Linked DNA regions of Homo sapiens. The protein of the gene in region 1 purifies or fractionates together with the protein of each later gene. This does not show direct contact. Each region holds a gene or a part of one and is shown on either strand. Other genes may lie near its edges.

What was found.
Region 2: the proteins of CELA2B (region 1) and CD109 purify together in Homo sapiens (affinity purification with mass spectrometry, with the first as the bait; one large-scale study listed by BioGRID). This does not show direct contact.

What each region holds. Positions count from the first base shown.
Region 1 is NC_000001.11:15,485,808-15,489,235, reverse strand, and holds part of CELA2B (chymotrypsin-like elastase family member 2B preproprotein), read right to left. Parts: intron 3,336-3,428; coding exon 3,190-3,335; intron 1,952-3,189; coding exon 1,799-1,951; intron 1-1,798. UniProt on the Homo sapiens protein: Acts upon elastin.
Region 2 is NC_000006.12:73,804,203-73,807,702, reverse strand, and holds part of CD109 (CD109 antigen isoform 1 preproprotein), read right to left. Parts: intron 860-3,500; coding exon 631-859; intron 1-630. UniProt on the Homo sapiens protein: Modulates negatively TGFB1 signaling in keratinocytes.

The DNA.
Region 1 (3,428 bases):
GATGCTGGGACAACAGATCGGGACAATTGCCCCTGCCCCTGCTTCAGGTCCCCAGGATGCTGCCAGGACCAGCTGCACGGTGACTCCCACAGCAGCTGGGGCTGGAAAACGGTCTTAGGATTTGGCTGGGAAAGGCCCCTAAGCAGCCTTTCGTCCAGTCAGTCTCAGGCCAGGCTCCTTTGACGTGCGTGGTGCCTCCAAAGGTGGACTCAGATGGGTTTTTCCCAATTTAGATATAAAAAGCCCCAATTAATGATTAATGGCTACTGTCTTTTTGATTTTCCATTTTTTTCCAACAAACTTTTTTGGAATTTCTGCCTATGACCACTTGTTGGCAAAAGGATGCCAGCAGACAGACAAATGAACAAGGAGCTGGCAAGAATCAATGGGAACACTTGGAAGCAGCCACCTGCTTATTTTGACAGTTTAGTTTTCTCCCCTGACCACGTGCTTATGGCTGCAGTTTCATATTTGGTTTTATAAGTGTCAGTTTAATTCAATTTAACACTTCTCTGCAAATTAAACTTAGTGAAGTCAGATGTCAGCTTTCCCCTTCTTTGGGGGCTCTGCCACGAATACCATAACTCCCTCTTGCTCTAGTGCCTAAAAATGTGGAGGTCTAGTTCAAGTCCCACTTTACAGAAGAGCAAACAGGTGGTCCCTAATTGGCACAAAGTATCCGCCTCTTCTCCCCCAGCTTCTATTACCAGGCATGGTGTCTCCTCTGCCCTCTCCTGGGCTCCCCTTTCTTGTGACGGGGTTTCCTCTTCTGGCTGCTTTCATCTACTTCTGTGTGTATCCATGGCTGCTCCTTAATATTTATGCCAACTATTATTATCATTATTTTCAGAGACAGGGTCTTGCTATGTCGCTCAGGCTGCAGTGCAGTGGTGCGACCTTGGCTTACTGTAGGCTCCACCTCTTGGGCCAAAGCGATCCTTCCACCTCAGCCTCCCAAGCAGCTGAGACTACAGGCATGCACCACCATGGCTAATTAAAAAAAAAAATCTTTGTAAAGACAGAGTCTCGCTATGTTGCCCAGGCTGCTCTTGAACTCCTGGGCTCAAGCAATCCTCCTTCCTTGGCCTCCCAAAGTGCTGCGATTACAGGCATGAGCCATGGCACCTGGCCTATTATTTTTAATAAATATTTTTAATGCTTATTGTTATAAAAAATGTGTGTTCATTGTTAAAAAGAATTTGAGCTAGTGTGGAAGCTCACAGGAGACAGCTCTCTGAGTTTACATTTACAAGACGGGGACCAACTCAGCTTTATTTGCCTGGGATGGTCCCAGTGTAAAACAGGAAGTCCCGCATCCTGGAAAACCTCTCAGTCCTGGGCAAACTGGGATGGTTGGTCACCCTACAGAATAGCTGGAGGACCCTTGAGGGGGACTAATTTCCAATAATTAATGCTATGGGGGTCTCAAAGTATCAGGTTTTGGGTTTTGCAGACATATACCCATTTATAGCACTGGATGGTAGAGTCTGGGCCACACACAAATACACAAAAATAAAATCATTCCTGTGGAACTCACTCTTAACGTACCTGAGGAGTGTCCAACGTCTTTGGACAAGGCCATACTCTCATGTTCCTTTTCACTCAGCTTTACCCACACAGAAATTTTGGGGACCCATGGGGGACTCAGCAGTTGCCAAGGTCTGCAGCCTCCTCCAAGGGGTTCCCATCTAGCTCTCAAGAGGAAGGAGGGGGTTCTCAGTCGCCAGGTGGGCATGGCACTCCCGAGGCCAGGTGAGCAGGTCAGTGCCTTGGGGCTCAGGGCTGCTCCGGTTCTTACCGAATTGATCCAGTCGTTGTAGTTGGAGACCCGCGTGAAGATGGAGGGCTTGTAGTAGTAGTTGCAACCAAGGACCGACGTGAGGCTGCCGATGCCATGCACCTCCCACCGGCCGTCAGATGCCTGACAGTTCAGCGGCCCACCGGAGTCTCCCTGAGGAAGGCCAGAGTTATAGGGAGTTGAAGTGGGAGGAAGGGGCTGCCCATTGGAACCATTGTTCTCAATGCATTTCTATTGTTCTGCTGCAGGTCACTGTCCTCTGAAGCTGGTCCTTGTGGTCATAGCTCAAGGTGGTACCATAATTCCAACAAGAGCCAACACTTATTCTTCCTTAGAGCTGAGCTAAGCATGTTCTATGCCTCATCTCATTAATCCTCACAAAATCCTATGAGGTAAATATTCGTAGTATCCCCAGGCCACGGAAGAGGAGAAACTGGAGTGTTGAGAGGTTGGGACTTGCCCAAGGTTGCACAGGCAGTTTGTAAAGGAGCTGAGGCCACATCCCAGACTTCAGCTGCCAGGCTCTTCCCCACTGGTTCTGTCTTCCCGCAGGTGGTCTATGTGGGCAGAGTGTGTAGGGCACAGTGTGATCTGAAGGGCGTGTGGATCTCCTTCCTACTCCATCCCCACTTCACTGCTAAGTCCAACACAGAGCAATTCCTGGTGGTTAAGACACTGTCTCCAGGAAGGTTTCCGTGACAGCTACCTGGAGGGGACACACTGCGCCATTGATGAGAGTAATTCAACAGAAAAACCAGAAGTCATCTTAGAAAGGCCTTAAGCCAGGGAATACTTTCCTTTGGTTCCCTTCCAGCGTAGAGGAAAGGATACAGAAGGACAGTCACGAGAGACCTTGATGAGACCCAGGGAAGGACTTCCCAGCAGTGAGATGGGTGGACACTACAAGGAGAATCTCAAAACATCTCAAAACAAGAACAAACAAGAACAAGGTCAGGTTTTTTTTTGAGTTTCACTCTGTCACCCAGGCTGGAGTGCAGTGGCATCATCTCAGCTCACTGCAACCTCCGCCTTCTGGGTTCAAGTGATTCTCCTGCCTCAGCCTCCCAAGTAGCTGTGACTACAGGCACCCACCACCATGCCTGGCTAATTTTTATTTTTAGTAGAGACAGGATTTCACCATGTTGGCCAGGCTGGTCTCGAACTGCTGACCTCAAGGCATCCACCCACCTCGGCCTCCCAAAGTGCTGGGATTACAGGCATGAGCCACTATGCCTGGCCAAAGGTCAGGTTCTGATATATCTGGTACCATTTCCGGGTGCTTCTGCCAGGAGGTCGGAGGATGGACCTATGGAGGGATGGTTTTCCATAGCCTCTTCCCATCCCCAGCCACATTTTGTCATGGAGCGGGGCCCCTGATTTTTGGTACTCACGTTGCAGGTGCATATCACGCCATCACCCCCAGCACAGATCATATTCGTCTTCACGGTGCTGCCCCACCAGCCAGAGCTGGAGCAGGTGGCATAGTCCACAACCAGCAACTGGCCCTGCTTCAGGTCATCAGGGAGAGCCCCGTTGGCTGAATGAGACCAGAGAGAAGCCATTAGGGACGCAGGGACTCCTGAGAAAAAGGAAGTGGTGGACCCCTACTGGATTTCCCCTGTTACCATCT
Region 2 (3,500 bases), on another chromosome or scaffold:
GCCTACTAGTAGAATAGGAAAATAGTGGGGGTCCTAATAAAGAGAATGACTTTGGTGATCTCATAAAATGCAGCAGGCAGTAAGCAGTAAAGGCATCAATCACCAGGACAGCTCTGGAGCAAACTTAAGCTCGTCAGCATACCTTTCCACGCATACTCATTCTCATCCAGGCATCCATGCCCATTCAACACACTTTTCAGGGTATGGGTGTTCTCAGCACTAAATTAACAGATATTGTAACTGTTCCATGATGTTTTATAAGTAAAAAATCCTTTGCAATCTAAACTTGCTAGAACACATTGTCAAATTTTAAATAATTTTCTTTCCCCTCAGAAATTAACTTTTTCAATGATAAAACATGTATTGACTTATCTTACCAATAGCAAGTACAATACATACATTAAAAAGCATTTTTAGAATTCTCTTAGTTATTCTGAAAGAGTGGGTTAATGTTTTATTCTCAGATTTTGGAACATGGCCACAAATGCAAAGCAAAAGAGTACTCAAATTCAGATTTCACATGTGTTGTAAAGCTGCAACTTGTTAAGTTTCCACACACATATTTGACCCATTAAGACCTACCTTCCTTGAATTTCCCATCTATCATTTATTAAATTAAATACGAAATACCTGATACTTTCTATATCCCAGGAGAGAAGTTACAATATAGGCTGTAAGTGTTACTGGACTTTTATTGCCACCTTGAAGCTCACTATGAATCACTCTTCCTGGATCCCAAAATTCACCGTTGGATTTCTGATGTCCTTTAAGCCAAGTGTATGTTCTGTGTAACACATTCTGATCAATATCTATGTAAGGATCGGCTTCAAGGAAACATCTTAAAACAAAAGCTGACAACCTTTATGAAAAGAGAAAAAAATTACATAAAATACACTTTATAAGGTCCACCAAATAACACCGAGCAAGCAAAACAACAACACTTTTTCCCCCATCAGAAGATTCATCAAAGGGGGAATCACTGAAGATGGAACAAGGAAAGAAAAAAATCAAAAAAGAAAGAGCAAAGGGACAAGGTAAGCAACTCTCTCTAGCAGGCAGAACTGGTTTCCACTTGGGCTTGGCCAAGAAATTCCATGTTGACTCAAAAATCTCAGATTTGAAAAGGAATTTAGAAATGATCTAATCCAGCTCCATTTTTTAATTTAATTTTATTTTATTTTATTTTTATTTATTATACTTTAAGTTCTAGGGTACATGTGCACAACGTGCAGGTTTGTTACATATGTGTACATGTGCCATGTTGGTGTGCTGCACCCATTAACGCGTCATTTACATTAGGTATGTCTCCTAATGCTATCCCTCCCCCATCCCCCCACCCCACAACAGGTCCCGGTGTGTAATGTTCCCCTTCCTGTGTCCAAGTGTTCTCATTGTTCAATTTCCACCTATGAGTGAGAACATGTGGTGTTTGGTTTTTTGTCCTTGCGATAGTTTGCTGAGAATGATGGTTTCCAGCTTCATCCATGTCCCTACAAAGGACATGAACTCATCCTTTTTTATGGCTGCATAGTATTCCATGGTGTATATGTGCCACATTTTCTTAATCCAGTCTATCATTGATGGACATTTGGGCTGGTTCCAAGTCTTTGCTATTGTGAATAGTGCCGCAATAAACATACGTGTGCATGTGTCTTTATAGCAGCATGATTTATAATCCTTTGGGTATATACCCAGTAATGGGATGGCTGGGTGTGGGGAAAAGAAAGAGAGATCAGATTGTTGCTGTGTCTGTGTAGAAAGAAGTAGACATAGGAGACTCCATTTTGTTCTGTACTAAGAAAAATTCTTCTGCCTTGAGATGCTGTTAATCTGTAACCTTACCCCCAACCCCGTGCCCTCTGAAACATGTGCTGTGTCAACTCAGGGTTAAATGGATTAAGGGCTGTGTAAGATGTGCCTTGTTAAACAGATGCTTGAAGGCAGCATGCTCGTTAAGAGTCATCACCACTCCCTAATCTCAAGTACCCAGGGACACAAACACTGCGGAAGGCTGCAGGGACCTCTGCCTAGGAAAGCCAGGTATTGTCCAAGGTTTCTCCCCATGTGATAGTCTGAAATGTGGCCTCGTGGGAAGGGAAAGACCTGACCGTCCCCCAGCCCAACACCCGTAAAGGGTCTGTGCTGAGGAGGATTAGTATAAGCAGAAGGAACACCTCTTTGCAGTTGAGATAAGAGGAAGGCATCTGTCTCCTGCCCGTCCCTGGGCAATGGAATGTCTCGGTATAAAATCCGATTGTATGTTCCATCTACTGAGATAGGGGAAACCTGCCTTAGGGCTGGAGGTGGGACATGCGGGCAGCAATACTGCTCTTTAAGGCATTGAGATGTTTATGTGTATGCATATCTAAAGCACAGCACTTAATTCTTTAACCCTGAGTTGACACAGCACATGTTTCAGAGAGCTCAGGGTTGGGGGTAAGGTTACAGATTAACAGCATCTCAAGGCAGAAGAATTTTTCTTAGTACAGAACAAAATGGAGTCTCCTATGTCTACTTCTTTCTACACAGACACGGTAACAATCTGATCTCTCTTTCTTTTCCCCACAGCTGGGTCAAATGGTATTTCTAGTTCTAGATCCTTGAGGAATCACCACACTGTCTTCCACAATGGTTGAACTAGTTTATGGTCCCACCAACAGTGTAAAAGTATTCCTATCTCTCCACAACTTCTCCAGCACCTGTTGTTTCCTGCCTTTATAATGATCGCCATTCTAACTGGTGTGAGATGGTATCTCATTGTGGTTTTGATTTACATTTCTCTGATGGCCAGTGATGATGAGCATTTTTTAATGTGTCTGTTGAATCCAGCTCCATTATTTTGTAGACTGAGAATCTGACAGTCCAAGAGAGTTAAATAAATTGTCCAAGGTTATTCATCTTTGGACTGTTCTAGATATTTACCAAAGAAGAGCTCCAACACGCTTCAGTCAGCCCCAAAGCTGTGGGTGAAGAATGCATACATAGTTCACAAGCAAACTGTAGTACTTCAGGTGGGGAAAATGATATTTTTCTCTCCTATAGAATGGGAGTTAGCCAACTGCAGCCTGTGGGCCAAATCTGCCTGGCCCAAATCTGGCCCTCAAGCCAAATACAGCCCAGGGCCTGTTTATGTGTGCACCAACCCAGCCCCCACCTGCCAACACCACCACCTAAGAGCGGGTTTTAAAAGAAGGAAAAGAAAAAGACAAAGACAGGAAAGAAAGAGGGAGGAGAGGGAGGAAGAGGGAAGAGCATGCAACGGAGACTCTACGTGGCCCAAAATGCCTGAAATACTTACAATCTGACCCTTTACAGAAAAGTTTGCCAGTCCCTGCTACAAAACACTATACTGAGGTAAAAAGAACATCAAGCAATACAACACTGAAAGCTTTCTATTTATGGTTCTATATCCTGAGTCAGGCCAAGGCCAAGAGAAAATTTGAAGCAGATCTGTTTCATGTTATATAAAGTTTCATGTGGTAAACATTACTGATATTCAA